Regions from separate parts of the Homo sapiens genome. Here region 2 is linked to region 1. The links come from fine-mapping of genetic effects on gene expression. A gene starts in region 1. The other region holds a variant in brackets. All regions are shown on one strand. Distances are from middle to middle. Region 1 holds the start of AEBP2 (AE binding protein 2). Region 2 has its middle 46 kb from the start of AEBP2.

Region 1 (8,335 bases):
CAAGAAGATGTTTCAGAATTAAGATTATTAAGACCCCAAGCCAGTTTCACTAGTAAGCCTTCTTCATACAAGTGACAAATCTATTACCCTGAAATGGTGACATTAAAAACAGTATTCTGTAGTCTCTAAAATTAAGCATTAAGAAAACCAAGTTTGCTTGGTTATCAAGTTTTAACTGTAGTTGGATTTGTGACACCCGTATTTTACTTCTTATTCTGAAATAAGATGTAAAAATTATATACTCAAGTAAATATCTCATTAATGTCAAATAAAAGCCACAACTCCACTTCCTAAATGTACTTAACCAATAATTCGTCTCCTGAAGTGATGTAGTAAATGGACACTAACTAAAAACAAAACTCTGACACATATCACTTGGTTTTTTTTTGAGACGGAGTCTCGCTCTGTCGCCCAGGCTGGAGTGCAGTGGCACCATCTCAGCTCACTGCAACCTCTGCCTCCCGGGTTCAAGCGATTCTCCTGCCTCAGCCTCCCGAGTAGCTGGGAACACAGGCGCGCGCCACCACTCTCGGGTAATTTTTGTATTTTTAATGTAGATAAGGTTTCACTATGTTGGCCAGGCTGATCTCAAACTCCCAACTCAGGTGATCCGCCCACCTCGGCCTCCCAAAGTCCTGGGGTTAACAGGCCTGAGCCACCGCGCCCGGCCTCAACTTATTTAAGGCGAATTATTTTAACTCTTCAGTGGAAATAATAGGGGACTTGAGAACCTTTGCTCATATCCAGCCCACCATTTCCATGCTGTATTTACTGTCCTGAGTAAGATACTCAACTTGCTTCTTCATCTGTTAAACAGAAGTCAAAATAATACCTATCTTGCACCATAGTTGTGGGAATGAAATGGAAGACATCTAATTTGTACAGTGGTAGGCAAGCATAATACGTGTATACTGAGTAAATGAAAAACGCTGATTTTATAAACTAATGTCAACTTTCAGATATGTAATGGTATCAGAGGAGCATAAAATGGTAAAAATAGCACATGCTTCATTGTGCAGTTTACATCAATTTTTAATTTTCTTGAAGACATTCTCCTTCCTACCCATGCCTACACAGTTCAACACAATTTTTCTAAGGTTTATACAGTCTACTTTACCCGAAGATATTTTCTTAACTAGACGTTAATGTCAAACAGAATCTAATGCCAGATTTTCAAAATATCCAGGACTCTGTATTACTTGTAGCATTAAATACTAAGGTGTTCGTTTTTAATCAATTAATCAGAATTCCTAGAACTTTAGAATATTAAACTCTTAAATGAAAATCACTATCGACCACTAAAATTTCCATTGCTATACTTTTCTGGAGAGCATGTTTAAAAAAAATGTGATTGTCAAAACATAGATGGTCAAAATAAACGCTAATACACTTTAGAAGTGGCATAATATGCATGTGATTCTCGTTTTTTTAAAAGTACATTAAAAACCAACTAACCCAAACAGATCAAAAGTAATGATAAGACAATTGAAACATACACTATCACACTTTTTAAATGTTCTGAAAAAATGCGCATTTTTGTCACTCTCCAGTTACTTCTAACAAGCTTTAGTAAGAAAAATAATACTCATTCCTTCCGAGACCTCTCCAATGCATGACTTTAAATATTATCATTTAAAATCATGACTCTCATGTTGAAACATTACTATAAAGCCGCAAACTACGTTGTACCTTCAAGACTGTATTTTGTTACGATTCCAACTCTCTGATTCCGCAAAGTTATCTTAAAAGGCCATCAATTCACTATTCTTTTCCACAACCATTTATACGTGTTTAAAACTTTTTCCCAGATATGCTCCCAAAACAAATAGAAAAGATTGTTAAAATCACGTTGGAGACCACATGACTGACTACAAATGAGGGATTTGGGAGGCAATGATTTAATATAAAAGAACAGTCCTTTTTTTGTTTAAGTAGAGAAAAGTGATAGCTGGGGTCTCTCCCATGGACAAGGAAGTTCTGTTAAATCCAGGCGAGACCAGCCATATTGGAAACACTTGTCAATTGTAGTTCTGACAAGTGTTCCCGAACACGGTTGGAAGAAGCTAACCTTGAGTACCGACGTGTGTACATCAAGGCCCTCTTCTGCTCCGCCAGAGGATCTGGGCCCGTTTGGGGACTGTTTCCGAGTTAGAGCCGTCCTGAGGTCCGTGAGGAGCGAAGCGCCGAGGGGAAAGAGGGCGGGGAAAGGAGAGTTGGGGGGGAACGGTTTGAGAGTTGGAAGCCGCGATGCGCTGCGAGAGGGGCGCGGCGGCGACGGCGAGAGATTTCCGAGTTGAGAGTCTGGGGGAGGGGCCGAGGATTCGGGGAGCAGGGGGATCGCGGCAAAACGTCGCCTTGGTCCCCCTCTGAGGGGCCCGGGAGTTCAAGAGGAGGAAGGGAAGGGGAAACGCTTCAGAGCACTGACCTGTCCTCCGAGTCCATGCGGCTCAGGGGTTCCCCATCCGACGACATCTCCAAGCTGCCCCGCCGGCCCCCGGAGGTCGCGCTGCTTCCGCCTCCCCCAGTCCCGTAGCCCTCGTCGCCGCCGCTGGAGACTACGCTGCTGCTACTGCTGCCGCCCCCGCCGCCGCCCTGGCTGCCCCGCGGTCCCTTGGGCTCCTCCAGGCCCTCCTTGCCGTCCCCATCCCCGCTGCTGCTGCTGGCGGCGCCGGGGCTCAACGAGCGGGTCTCGTCGCTGCTGCTCCCGCCGCTGCTGCCCACCAGGCTCTCGGCGCTACTCTCCTCCTCACCCCCGCCGCTGCTGCTGCTCTCATCTTCCTCCTCCTCGTCGTCCTCCTCCTCGTCTTCGTCCTCCCCGGCCTGGCTGGCGCTCTCGGGGCTCGGCTCCGACATCGTCTCTGCCTCGCCGCCCCCCACTCCTCCGCCGCCGCCTCCGCCGCCCCCACCGCTGCCGCCGTTCAGCAGCAGCGCCGCCACCGCCTCGGCCTCCGCCTCCTCTTCCTCCTCCTCCTCTTCCTCCTCCTCCTCGGGGGGCTCAGCCCGGCCCCGCGCCGCCGAACCCGGGCTGCCGGGGGGCAGAGGGCTCAGGCGGGAGAGCTCCTCCAGGTCGGCCATGTCGGTGATAGCGGCGGCCATGGCGGCGCCTGCTCCTCCTCCTCCTCCTCCTCCCCACCGCCGCCTCCCTCTCTCGACTCTCTCTCCCTCGCCCCCCTCCCAAACGCCCAAAACTCCGCCGACGCCGCTGCAGAGCAGGAGGAGGGCCCGCGAGCTGCGTCAGCCTGCACACGCGCTACGGAGCCCGCGCGGGGACAGGCGCGCGACTACGCGCACTCACACGGAGACTGCTGCGCGCCTGCGCGGCGGCACGAGGCAGCACCTCCCCCGGCTGCGGGTTCTGCGCCCCCGCCCCCGCCCGGCGCCCGCCCCGCTGCCCAGTGCCCGCCCCCGCCCCCGCCCCGGCGCCTGCAAGTGCTCAGCGTTTCCTCGGGGCCTTCCCACGCCCTGCCGGGCTTCGAAGCCCAGGGACACGCGGACTGAAAACTCCAACGCTGGCCGGGGATTTTAGCAGCCTTCCGAGTTCTCACGATAAACTCATTCATTCCGGGGGTGTTTGAGGAGTGTCCCCTCTGTACAGGAGCTGAGCCAGGAATAGAACGAGCCTACAGTCTACGAAGAGAGCGGTTTAAAATGGGCAAAAATTAAAACACTACGGTGTAAGGTACTAAATTTTTATGCGCAACACAGGGCGACAGGTTTTAATACACCCTATGTTTGAATACCCCTGGAGATGTTGACATCCTGAACCCAGAGCAAACATCTTGGTTCAGGGTCCTCAAACTTTTTACTTCATGAGCCTTCTAAAACAATTTCGTAAAGCTGTGTATGTTCTTATACAGTTTAGAATGACAGCTACATTTTTCCGGCTTATAAATATTTCATCTGTCGCATTGTTTAAATACTGTATAGCCAATGGATTCTAAATACCATAGGGATTTAACACCCACTAATATCCATTTTTTTAAAATACAGTTTGGAAAATACAATTTCCAAATATTGTTTTCTGGAACTCATATTGACGTTGCATATCTCCTCTAGAATTTTATCCTAGTAATATATTTTATATTTGAACTATTTTGATCGTCTTACTTGTAATAAAAATGTGAACATAAATTGAAGTATCTGGGTTGTTTTTTATATTTTCTGTGATCATAAAGCTCTTATTTCAACCGATCAAAACAAATCTATTTCAAATGTTTGTAAGTACTAAACACAAAAGCAAAATTTTATTGGCAATGCATCTTGCAGAAATGAACTTGGGTGGACTTTTTTCTAATATACATTATGACCTTCAGTGGATGGATTTTTTTGAGAAATAGTTCAGCATCAGTTCTATTCCAAGTTTTCAATTCCATGGATATAAGTGTTGAGAAAACTTGTTCGCATAAAAAAAGCAGATGAGAATGAATGGAGTTTTGTTATAGTAATGCCACACAATTCTTTGAATGCCTTTCGCATTATATGCCCAAAAATCGCATAAAGATCTAACAAAGAAAAAATACTTTTAATGATCTGTCAGCTGACAACTCTGATTAGGTTCTCTTTCAACTTGTTGAAAGCAAGCAACTGAAAACCACCTGACTTGTGAAAGGATGTGTTACCCCATTCTTATTCACCAGTCAATTGTGCCTTTCTTTGGTGTCCTGGAGGTTTTTGCATAACCGGGTATTGCACCTTACTAAGATTTAGCATGAGGAAGAATTATGCCTTTCTTTTGTAAAGTAGGGAAGAGGTCATTGGAAGAAAGGAGACTGGAAAAGAGCCCACATTACACCCTGACCCAAGGACACATTTTCAGGCCAATTTTAGGGATGCTTCTACTCAAGGAAAATGAGGATAGAACTGACTGCCTGAAAACAGAGCCTCCATGCTCATTTCCCATTTGGGAAAGTCGTCATATACCGTGAGTACCCAGTATTACATCCTCTGCCTTAGGCCTTTGGACAACTGTTATATAAAATGTTGCCTCTAAGGGAATGCAAAAATAATAACATGGGACATCATTTACAGATACCTTCAGAGGCACATACAATGTAAGGTATTAACTTCCAACATTTTAAACCTCAAAGGCAATCTTAGATAAGGAATGTATTAAAGTGAAATACACTGTAAACTGTAAATTAAAAACTATCAGAAGGCCGGCAGGGTGGCTTATACCTGTAATCCCAGCACTTTGGGAGGCCAAAGTAGGAGGCTCACTTGAGCCCAGGAGTTTGAGACCAGCCTGGGTAAAATAGCGAGACCCTGTCTCTACGGCACACCTGTAGTCCCAGCTACTCAGGAGGCTGAAGTGGGAGGTTCACTTGAGCCCTGGAGGTTGAGGCTGCAGTGAGCCATGATCATGCCACTGCACTCCATACCTTTCCTCACCCATCATAAGGGTCATGGCCAACACTTCTACAACAAAAGACAGGTTAACAAGAGAAAAGTGTAACAAATTAATTTAATGGAAGTCTTATGTGACACAGGAGCCTTCAGAAGTAAAGACCCAGAGAAAGCTGTCCATTTGTATGCCTAGATTCAACAGAGTGGACATCCATGTAGAAATGTGATTGTACAAAAAGAGAATGAACTAATAGTAATAGACTGAGTGTGGAAACCCAGCAAGGCCTGTCCAGATTCGTCTTGACCTCTCTGTGTAGCATTCCTTCCACACCCAGGTATAGAGCAGACTTCTCTGGAATGAGAGTCTTCAAATGAGAAGGCAGAGAGTGACCTTTCTTCGTTTCATGGCTTACTTTGTGGGGAAAGGAGTTCTGGTTTATATGACTAGCCTAGGGTGAGTAACAGGGATAGGAGACAGCAGGACAGAGGTTCAGTGAGAGACTTTGCTTCTCAGGCTTTCCAATCTCCTTTAGTTCAAAGTACTCAGCATGGGGGCCAGGTGCAGTGGCTCACTCTTGTAATCCCAGCACTTTGGGAAACTGAAGCAGGGGGATCACTTGAGCCCAGGAGTTCGAGACCAGCCTGAGCAATGGGATGAAACTCCATCGCTACAAAACACTTTTTTTTGTTGTTAACTAGCCAGGTGTGGTGGTGTGCACCTGTAGTCCCAGCTACTTGGGAGGCTGAGGTGGGAGGACAGCTTGAGCCAGGAGATTGAGGCTGCAGTGAACTGTGAGTGATCAAGAGCCATTGCACTCCAGTTTGGGCAATAGAGTAAGACCTTATCCCCCCCCCAAAAAAAAAAGAAAAAAGAAAAGAAAACAAAAGAAAACACAAAGTGTTACCAGAAAGGGGCCCCGATCCCGACCCCAGGAGAGGGTTCTTGGACCTCACACAAGAAAGAATTTGGGGTAAGTCCATACAGTAAAGTGAAAGCAAGTTTATTAAGAAAGTAAAGGAATAAAAGAATGGCTACTCCATAGACAGAGCAGCACTGAGGGCTTCTGGCTGGCCACTTTTATGGTCATCTCCTGATTATACGCTAAACAAGGGGTAGATTATTCATGAGTTTTCCAGGAAAAGGGTGGGCAGTTCCTGGAAATGAGGGTTTCTCCATTTTTTAGACGATAGGGTAACTTCCCGACATTGGCATGGCATTTGTAAACTGTCAAGGCACTGGTGGGAGTTGTCTCTTAGCATGCTAATGTATTATAATTAGCACATAATGAGTAGCTACGATGACCAGAGGTCACTTACATCGCATCTTGGTTTTTGTGTGTTTTGGTCAGCTTCTTTACCACATCCTTTTACCAGCAAGGAGTTTGTGACCTGTATCTTGTGCTGACCTGCTATCTTATCCTAACTTAGAATGCCTAACCTCCTGGGAATGCAGCCCAGTAGGTTTCAGCCTTATTTTACCCATCCCGTATTCACGATGCGAGTCGCTGTGGTTCGAACACCTCTGACAAAAGTACTCAGCATGCCAAAGCACCATACTTTGGGGTATCATTTTCTGAGCCCCAACAAATGTATGTGCCAGACACTGTGTTAAGCCCTGGAGATTATGGTTCATGTTTGGCCGAGTTAATCAAGGAAAGCTTCATGAAAAATGTAGGATTTCGACAAAGTGTATAGTAAGACATACAATAACTATATCTGGTTTCATTAATTTGAGCTGGATTTTGAAGAGCGAACAGAATTCTGTGTTGGGGAACTCAAACTGAGAAGCAATATACGGAAAAGCATCAACATTTATTCATGACAAGGTTAATTAACCATAAGAAATCATGGCAAGAAAGCTAAAAATAGTTAAATATTAGATTGAAGAAGGACATGAATAAAAAGTTGATGTTGGGGACCAGTCACAGTGGCTCATGCCTGTAATCCAGCACTGTGGAGAGCTGAGACAGACAAATCACTTGAGGTTACGAGTTCAAGGCCAGCCTGGCCAACAAGGTGAAACCCTATCTCTACAAAAAATAAAAAAATTAGCCAGGCACAGGAGAATCACTTGAACCCGGGAGGTGGAGGTTGCAGTGAGCCGAAATTGCGCCACTGCACTCCAGCCTGGGTGACGGAGCATGACACCGTCTCAAGAAAAAAAAAAAAAAATTAGCCAGTCATGGTGGCACACAGCTATGGGAGGCTGAGGTGGGAGGATCACCTGAGCCTAGGGAGGTCCAGGCTTTCAGTAAGCCAAGCACCACTGCACTTCAGCCTGGGTGACAGAGTGAGACTTTGTCTCAAAAAAAAAAAAAAAGTTCTGACAGGTATGTACTAAGATATTTTAATAAAGGTATGATATGATTAGATTATATTGTACATCTGTAGAATCTAATATATAGGAGATAGGATGAAAAGTGTGAAAAGTTCCAGTGAAGGATTTATTAAGGGAAAAAAAAAGTGTCAAAAGTGAATGGAGATTAGACACATGGAAATGGCAAGTATCAAAGCCACAAACGAATATTTTAGCTGTGGTATTTATACTTGAAGACTAAAATGAACTGTCTCGGAATTGGCATTTTGCAGAAAATTGTGTTTCCCATCACTGGAGAGTTTCCCTGTCTTCCTCTTGGTTTAGTTGCAGACATCACTGCTCTGCATGCATCTCCTTAGAACAAGGCCACACTCCTCCATAACCACAGTGACAGGATGTCATTATTTCACTCTCAAAATTTAAATAACTGAAGTGTTGAACTAGAGCAGAACCTCTGTGTGACAGTTTCTTTTGGCAGCATCAGGTGACAGGTTTGATGATCCTGAGGACCAAAGTCATTCCCCAGCTCAGTACCCATTCATAAACTGTGCATTCCCGGTTTGTAGCTACATAGGTACTAAAAGTAGCTTTCATAAACTTTTATAAACTTTTATAACAACTTGACAGAGCAGTTTTATGTCTGCATAAAATTACTAATCTAAGGGCCAGGCACAG
Region 2 (8,335 bases), 46 kb after region 1:
CTTGTTGCCCAGGCTGGAGTGCAATGGTGCCATCTCGGCTCACTGCAACCTCCACCTCCCGGGTTCAAGTGATTGTCCTGCCTCAGCCTCCTGAGTAGCTGGGATTACACGCATGCGCCACCACACATGGCTAATTTTGTATTTTTAGTAGAGACGGGGTTTCTCCATGTTGGTCAGGCTGGTCTCAAACTCCCGACCTCAGGTAATCTGCCCGCCTCGGCCTCCCAAAGTGCCGGGACTGCAGGTGTGAGCCACCACGCCCGACAATTTTTGTATTTTTAGTAGAGATGGGGTTTCACCATGTTGGCCAGGCTGGTCACGAACTCCTGACCTCAAATGATCCACCCACCTTGGCCTCCCAGGCTTGAGCCACTGCGTCCAGCCTTGAAAGCCATCTTTCTATTTTAGAAAGGCAGCCTGGGTGCAGTGGCTCACGCCTGTTCTCAGCACCATGGGAGGTCAAAGGAGTAGGATTACTTAAGAGCAGGAGTTCAAGACAATTGTCGGCAACACAGCAAGACTCTGTTTGTATTTTATTTAGAAAAAGAAAAGGTATTATTTTCCTAAGTGACTAATTTCCCTCTTTTTTTTTTTTTTTTTTGAGACGGGGTCTCGCTCTGTCACCCAGGCTGGAGTGAAGTGGCGCAATCTCGGCTGACTGCAACCTCCCCCTCTCAGGTTCAAGCGATTCTCCTGCCTCAGCCTCCAGAGTAGCTGGGACTACAGGCACATGCCACCATGCTCAGCTAATTTTTTTGTACTTTTAGTAGAGACGGGTTTTCACCATATTGGCCAGGATGGTCTTGATCTCTTGACCTCATGATCTGCCCACCTCTGCCCCCGAAAGTGCTGGGATTACAGGCATGAGCCACCGCGTCCGGCCAATTTCTTTTTTAATTTTTTTTTTCTTTTTAAGAGACGGGGACTTGCCGTGTTGCCCAATCTGATCTTGACCTCCTGAGCTCCTGGCCTCAAGTGATCCTTCCACCTTGATCTCCCAAAATATTGGGATTAGAGGCGTGAGTCACCATGCTTGGCTGGTTGAACTTGGAGCTGGACTTTCTGAGCACACAACACTTCTTTCATAGCTCTTGGTCAAATGAGAGGAGGGAAAGGGAAATAACCTATTTTGAAAGCATACCTTAGGGCCAGGTTCAGGATCAGGTAACTCTATTTCCTCTTTTTGTTTGTTTGTTTGTTTGTTTGTTTAAACAGGGTCTCACTCTGTTGCACAGGCTGGAGTGCAGTGGTGTGATCTTGGCTCACTGCAACCTCCCCCTCCTGGGTTCAAGCAATTCTCCTGCCTCAGCCTCCCGAGTAGCTGGGATTACAGGCACATGCCACCATGCCCAGCTAATTTTTGCATTTTTTGGTAAAGACAGGGTTTCATTGTGTTGGCCAGGCTGGCCTTGAACTCCTGGCCTCAAGTGATCCATCCACTTCGGCCTCCCAAAGTGCTGGGATTACAGGCATAAGCCACCGCGCCCAGTCCCTATTTCCTTTTTATACAGATGAGAAAACTCATCTAGGATATCTGAGGATGATGGGTAAGTAAACCGTAAGCAGGGTCTCTAGTCTGGCTCATGCTGTTATCCCCAGCACCTCGCTGAAGAACTGGTCCCTGGTAGGAAGAGAGAAAGAATAGAAGTGGAGGGATCATTGCTGCACAACTGGAGCAGGGAGGAGAGAAAAGTGATGAAGTTGTGGGTGACCCCATTGCTTGAGCAGTGGTAGTACAGGATCCTTCTGGGTTGTAACTGTGTCTTATGCAACTTAAACCACATGGAACACAATACTAGAAACATGGTGGGTGCTCAAAGGAGGTTTTTCTAATTAATTAATCTAGATTAGCACCATTTAAAACATAAGTCCAGGCCGGATGCAGTGGCTCATGCCTGTAATCCTAGCACTTTGGAACGCCAAGGCAGGCAGATCACAAGGTCAGGAGTTTGAGACCAGCCTGGCCAATATGGTGAAACTTCGTCTCTACTAAAAATACAAAAATTAGCCGGGCGTGGTGGTGGGCGCCTGTAGTCTCAACTAGTCGGGAGGCTGAGGCAGGAGAATGGCGTGAACCCGGGAGGCGGAGGTTGCAGTGAGCCAAGATGGCGCCACTGCACTCCAGCCTGGATGACAGAGTGAGATTCTGTCTCAAAAAAACAAAAATAAAAACAAAAAAAGTCTGTTATTACTGTCATGTTAACAGCTCAGAACTTGGTTAACCTTTTTTTTTTTTTTTTTTTTTTTTGGACAAGTTCTCATCACTCTGTTGCCCAGGCTGAATTGCAGTGGCCCAATGCTTGCTCACCGCAGCCTTCATCTCCTGGGCTTAAGTGATCCTCCCATCTCAGCCTCCCAAAGTGATGGGATTACAGGCATGAGCCATAGTGTCCCGCCCTATTCTCTCCTCCTGTCTGTGAGATTCCAGATCCTTGTAATTTTGGGAGACAGAGAGATAATAATCTTTTTTATTAAAAAACAAGATATTTATAACATATGTTTTCACTCAGCAAAGATTTACTATGTGCATAACACTCTGCTAAGTCGGGAGATACCGTGGGGATACAGTGGGGGACTCACAAGTCTATTAATGCTACAATAGGGAAGAAGCTAAAGCTGTGAAGTACACAATAGAGGGATGTTTTGTCCCAAGAGGCATAAGGCAGTCAGGAAAATATTTCTGGAAGTAGTGAGGTCTTAGCTGAAAGGTAGGTAGGATTTCCTAGAACAAAGGAAAGGGTGTGTGGGTGTGAGTTCATGTGTGCCTGAAAGGAGATTGTCTCAAGCAGAGGGAACACCATGTCTTTTTGATCAACTTGGATCTCCACATTCTTTTTTTTTTTTTTGAGACGGAGTCTCGCTCTGTTGCCCAGGCTGGAGTGCAGTGGCAGTGATCTTGGCTCTCTGCAAGCTCCACCTCCCGGGTTCACGCCATTCTCCTGCCTCAGCCTCCCAAGTAGCTGGGACTACAGGTGTCGGCCACCACGCCCGGCTAATTTTTTATATTTTTTTAGTAGAGACAGGGTTTCACTGTGTTAGCCAGGATGGTCTCGATCTCCTGACCTCGTGATCCACCCGCCTCGGCCTCCCAAAGTGCTGGGATTACAGGTGTGAGCCACTGCCCCTGGCCTATTTTTAAATTTTATTTATTTATTTTTGAGACACAGTCTCTAATTTTATTTTTTATTTATTTATTTTTTTTGAGATGTAGTCTCACTCTGTCACCCAGGCTGCAGTGCAGTGGCATGACCTCAGCTCACTGTCACCTCCACCTCCCAGGTTCAAGTGATTCTCGTGGCTCAGTCTCCCTAGTAGCTGGGATTACATGCGCCCGCCACCACGCCCATCTAATTTTTGTATTTTTAGTAGAGACCGGGTTTCACCATGTTGGCCAGGCTGGTCTCAAACTCCCAACCTAAGATGATCCATCCACCTCAGCCTCCCAAAATGCTGGGATTACAGGCGTGAGCCATCACACCCAGCCTGGATCTCTACATTCTGTGAAGCATGAGCAAGTACATAAAGTTAGATGAGTGGTATGGTTAAGTGCACAAACCTGAGCCTCCTCATTTTCTTTCCCTTTAAATTGTGGTAAAAGGCACATAACATAAAATTTACCATTTTAACAATTTGAAAGTGTACAATTCGGTGGCATTAAGTACAGGTATTCATGATGTGCAGACATTCATTCATAGTGTGCAGACATCATGACCTCGTTAACAAAACCTTTTCTTCATCCCAAATGGAAACCCCATACCCATCAAGTAGTCACTTCTCATTTCCCTCTTTCTAAGCACCTGGCAACTACTAATCAGCTTTCTGTCTTTATGAATTTGCCTATGATGGATATTTCATATCAATGGAATCATACAATATGTGGCCTTTTGTAAATTCGTTCTTCACTTAGCATAATGCTTCCTTTCTTCCCCCTTCCCCCTTCCCCTTCCCCTTCCCCTTTCCTCCCTCCCTCCCTCCCTCCCTCCTTCCTTCCTTCCTTCCTTTTGATGGAGTCTCGCTCTGTCACTGCCTCAGCCTCCCAAAGTGCTGGGATTACAGGCATGGGCAACCTTGCCCGGCCTAGCATTCCAGAGATAACTATAACCTGATTTTGCCATTTATCCTTTTCCACAGGTCTTTATATTTTTACAATATTTATGTGTCCATATATGTGTGTGTATATTTTCATGAATATTTTATGCTTATATAGATAAAATTACATTGTATGTATCCTTCTGTCACTTGGTCGCTACCCCTAGCCCACTAATCTTACATCTGTGTGAAATTTTCATGCTGAGACGTGTCATCCAAGTCTATTTTCAGTGCAGCATAACCTTTTCATTGTATGAATATACAAAAGTGACACAGTTATCTATTCAAAAGGCAAATCTGGTCCTGTCAATCTCCTACTTAAAATACCTCAGGGCCGGGCGTGGTGGCTTAAGTCTGTAATCCCAGCACTGTTGGAGGCCGAGGCAGGTGGATCACCTGAGGTCAGGAGTTCGAGACCAGCCTGACCAACATGGAGAAACCCCGTCTTTACTAAAAATACAAAATTAGCCGGGTGTGGTGGCACATGTCTGTAATCCCAGCTACTCGGGAGACTAAGGCAGGAGAATCGCTTGAACCCAGGAGGCAGAGGTTGCGGTGAGCTAAGATCGTGCCATTGCACTCCACTCTGGGCAACAAGAGCAAAACTCTGTCTCAAAAAAAAACAAAAACAAAAACAAAAACAAAACAGTCCAGGCACAGTGGCTCACTCCTGTAATCCCAGCACTTTCAGAGGCCGAGGTGGGCGGATCATGAGGTCAGGGGATCGAGACCATCCTGGCTAACACAGTGAAACCCCCATCTCTACTAAAAATAAAAAAAATTAGCCAGGTGTGGAGGCAGGCTCCTGTAATTCCAGCTACTTGGGAGGCTGAGGCAGGAGAATTGTTTGAACCCGGGAGGCAGACATTGCTGTGAGCTGAGATCACACCATTGCACTCCAG[C/T]CTGGGCAACAAAGAGCAAAACATATACATATTTTTCCAGCTGGAGCTGGAAGATTGCTTGAGTTTAGGAGTTTGAGAGCAGCCTGGGCAACATAGTGAGACCTTGTCTCTATAAAAAAATTTAAAAATTAGCCGGGTGTAGTGGCATGAGCCTATAGTCCCAGTTACTCAGTAGGCTGAGGTGGGAGGATTGCTTGATCCCAGGAGGTTGAGGCTGAAGTAAGAAGTAAGCCAGGATCATGCTACTGCACTCCAGCCTGGGTGACACAGTGAGACCCTGTTCACAATAAAAGAGAGAGAGACGGCTGGGTGTGGTGGCTCATGCCTGTAATCCCAGCACTTTGGGAGGCTGAGGTGGGCGGATCACCTGATGTCAGGAATTTGAGACCAGCCTGACCAACATGGAGAAACCCTGTCTCTACTAAAAATACAAAATTAGCCGAGCGTGGTGGTACATGCCTGTTATCCCAGCTACTCGGGGGGCTGAGGCAGGAGAATAGCTTGAACGCAGGAGCCGGAGGTTGCAGTGAGCCGAGATGGCGCCATTGCACTCCAGCGTGGGCAACAAGAGCGAAACTCCTTCTCCAAAAAAAAAAAAAAAAAAAAGGAGATACAAATATTAGCTGGGTGTGGTGGCACATGCCTGTAATCCCAGCTACTCAGGAGGCTGAGGCGTGAGAATCACTTGAACCGAGGAGGCAGAGGTTGCAGTGAGCTGAGATCGTACCACTGCACTCCCACCTGGGCGACAGAGCATGATTCTGTCTCAAAAATAAAGTAAAATAAAAGAAAATAAAAATAGATTTTAAACAATATATTCTTTGGTGGTTTCATCAGACATTTATGAAGATTCTCAGTGAGTTCTATTGCTGGCTGTGACCTTCATTGTTCTCTTCAGTTGAACCTGATGCCTGATGCACCTTCTGATCCTTGCTCCCTTCTGCCTCCAATCCTCAAGCTTATAGCCTTTTTACTGCTTCCAGATTCCACTTTCTTTCCTTCCTTTAAATTCTTATTTCTTTTACTTTTGTAAAAGGAGGCAGATGTGCCACGGATTATATGTTGTTTCCACAAAATGTATGTGCTGAGTCTACTTTTGGTCCATCCACAGGAATCTTACGAGAACTGGTTATTGTCTCTCTGAAAGCAATCACAGTCCTTCCTTGAGTCTCCCAGAACATTTTAGCCCAGATGGTGTTAAGGACCAAAGCCTAGAGTTCTCTTCAGATCAAGATAGTAGACAAGATAATAGACTTATGTTATGCTGGTATTATTTTTTTAGGGCTAGGTTTGATTTTAAAATGTAACTGTGGCCGGGCGTGGTGGGTGGCTCAAGCCTGTAATCCCAGCACTTTGGGAGGCTGAGGCAGGTGGATCACGAGGTCAGGAGATCGAGACCATCCTGGCTAACATGGTGAAACCCCGTCTCTACTAAAAATACAAAAAAATTAGCCGGGCCTGGTGGCGGGCACCTGTAGTCCCAGCTACTCGGGAGGCTGAGGCAGGAGAATGGCATGAACCCAGGAGGTGGAGCTTGCAGTGAGCAGAGATCGCGCCACTGCACTCCAGCCTGGGCAACAGAGCAGGACTCTGTCTCAGAAAAAAAAAAAAAAAAGGTAACTGTGTAAGTTGTCTATTACAATGTTTTAAATCAACTATGAGTCATTCCAAAAAACAAGCAAATGAACCAAATCACTGGAAACTCAAAGGAGAGCTTGTTTTATGTTGATGTTCCTGAGATTTCCTCAGAGATGATACATTCACACTATCAAATTCTTCCAGACCATTTCACAAATAAGTTTTTACTTAGCATCCTGACCCAAGACTTTCTTTTTGGCATGCCAATCAGTCTTCCTTCAAAAACAGGTTCTACATGATTGTGCGCTGAGCCTATTGCTGAAATAATTATCACTTTGTTTTACCAAGCGAGCTTTAGTCAGGCAACTAGGGATGTGCTGGAGTGTGTCCTCTTAGAAATACAAGTGAAATGTAACAGATTGCCAATAGCTATATTTTCCAAAATGGCTTATTTATGGTTTTCCCTTTAAACTTGGCTTTGACTCAACTCACAAAGTTTTACAGCTAACATTTAGAGGTCACGTGGGGGGCAGAAGGCATCATCAGGTTGATTTTAACTGACTAGTTTATCTCCAGTTTCTGGCCCAATGGGAAACTAAAAATGGAAATTTACTTTCTGCTCCTTATTCTAAAACAAAGACGTGATTTCTTGCCAAAAATAAATCATAGAATGTGGAAGTGTTTAAAGAAGATCCAGAATGAACATTATCGTGTATATCCAGGCTTTTCTGTGAATGAATAGTATACATGTCTCTTTAACAAAATGGGATCCTGCAGGACATATTGTTTTATAAACTGCCCTGTTTACTACATATACAGTGAACAGCTTTTCATAGATTAACCACACCATACAATAAGGAACAACATGCACTGGATAGTCTCTGATTTATTTAACCAGTTCGCTGCAGGTGACATTTAGTTTGTGAGGTGGATGTTAGTTTGTGGGATATTTTTTGCAGCTTGGCTCACTCAACACCCATTTCAACTCTTTTCTCCTTGCCTTTCTCTATTCTAAAGTTTGGGAAGAGAAACACTTGTTTTCCCAGACACCCCGATGGCTAGGGTGGCCATGTCATTTGGTTCTGGCCAGTGAGAATATGAGACTGTGTTGAGACCACTCAATTTGACATAGCACACCTGCTCACCAAAATGTGTGTGGATTTCTCCCCATCAGCCCACCAAGCAAACCTCCAGCAGATTCTCCAGCGCATACCGGCTAGGTGTCCTCTAATTCAATTCTGACACTACATACCTGGAGATAGTGTCCGTTCCCACAGGTGGAAGGATCAGCCCCACTAAAACTGCCTCCACTTCAGATGCCAATCACAAGTCCGTGCCTCCCCAGACTTTCTGACTGGCTACAAACCAGACCCTCTCTTGGGCTTGATTAATTTGCTAGGAGGGCTCACAGAACTCAGGGAAACACTTACGCTGATGGTTTATAATAAAGGATACAGATGAAGAGATGCATAGGGTGAGGTATGGGGTAAGGGGTGTGGAGCTTCCACACTCTCCAGGAACCTCCATACATTCAATCATCTGGAAGCTCATCAGAACCGTGTCTTTTATGGAGGCTTCATGGCACAGGTAAGATTGATTCAATCATTGACCATTGCTGATCAACTTAACCTTCAGGTTTTCTCCCTTCCCCATAGGTCTAGGGGTGGGGCTGAGAGGTCCAACCCTTTAGTCATCTAGTTAGTTCCCCTGACAACGAATCCCCAACCAGAGCCTATCTAGGAGCCTCAGCTACGAGTCTTCTCATT

Evidence for each region.
Region 2: its variant is fine-mapped to the expression of AEBP2 in esophagus mucosa (GTEx, PIP 0.96).

What each region holds. Positions count from the first base shown.
Region 1 is chr12:19,434,461-19,442,795 of GRCh38, reverse strand. It overlaps AEBP2 (AE binding protein 2), which reads right to left and starts at 3,304. Exons shown (of 8, transcript NM_153207.5): 1 at 2,426-3,304. The coding sequence starts at 3,096. RefSeq lists enhancers at 2,047-2,136, 2,167-2,216, 8,127-8,226 and silencers at 2,867-2,966, 2,977-3,126, 3,187-3,436.
Region 2 is chr12:19,388,893-19,397,227 of GRCh38, reverse strand. No RefSeq gene overlaps it. Among named protein-coding and RNA genes, the nearest start is that of AEBP2, 46 kb to the left of the region's middle. The variant C/T (reference allele first, on the strand shown) is at 4,992.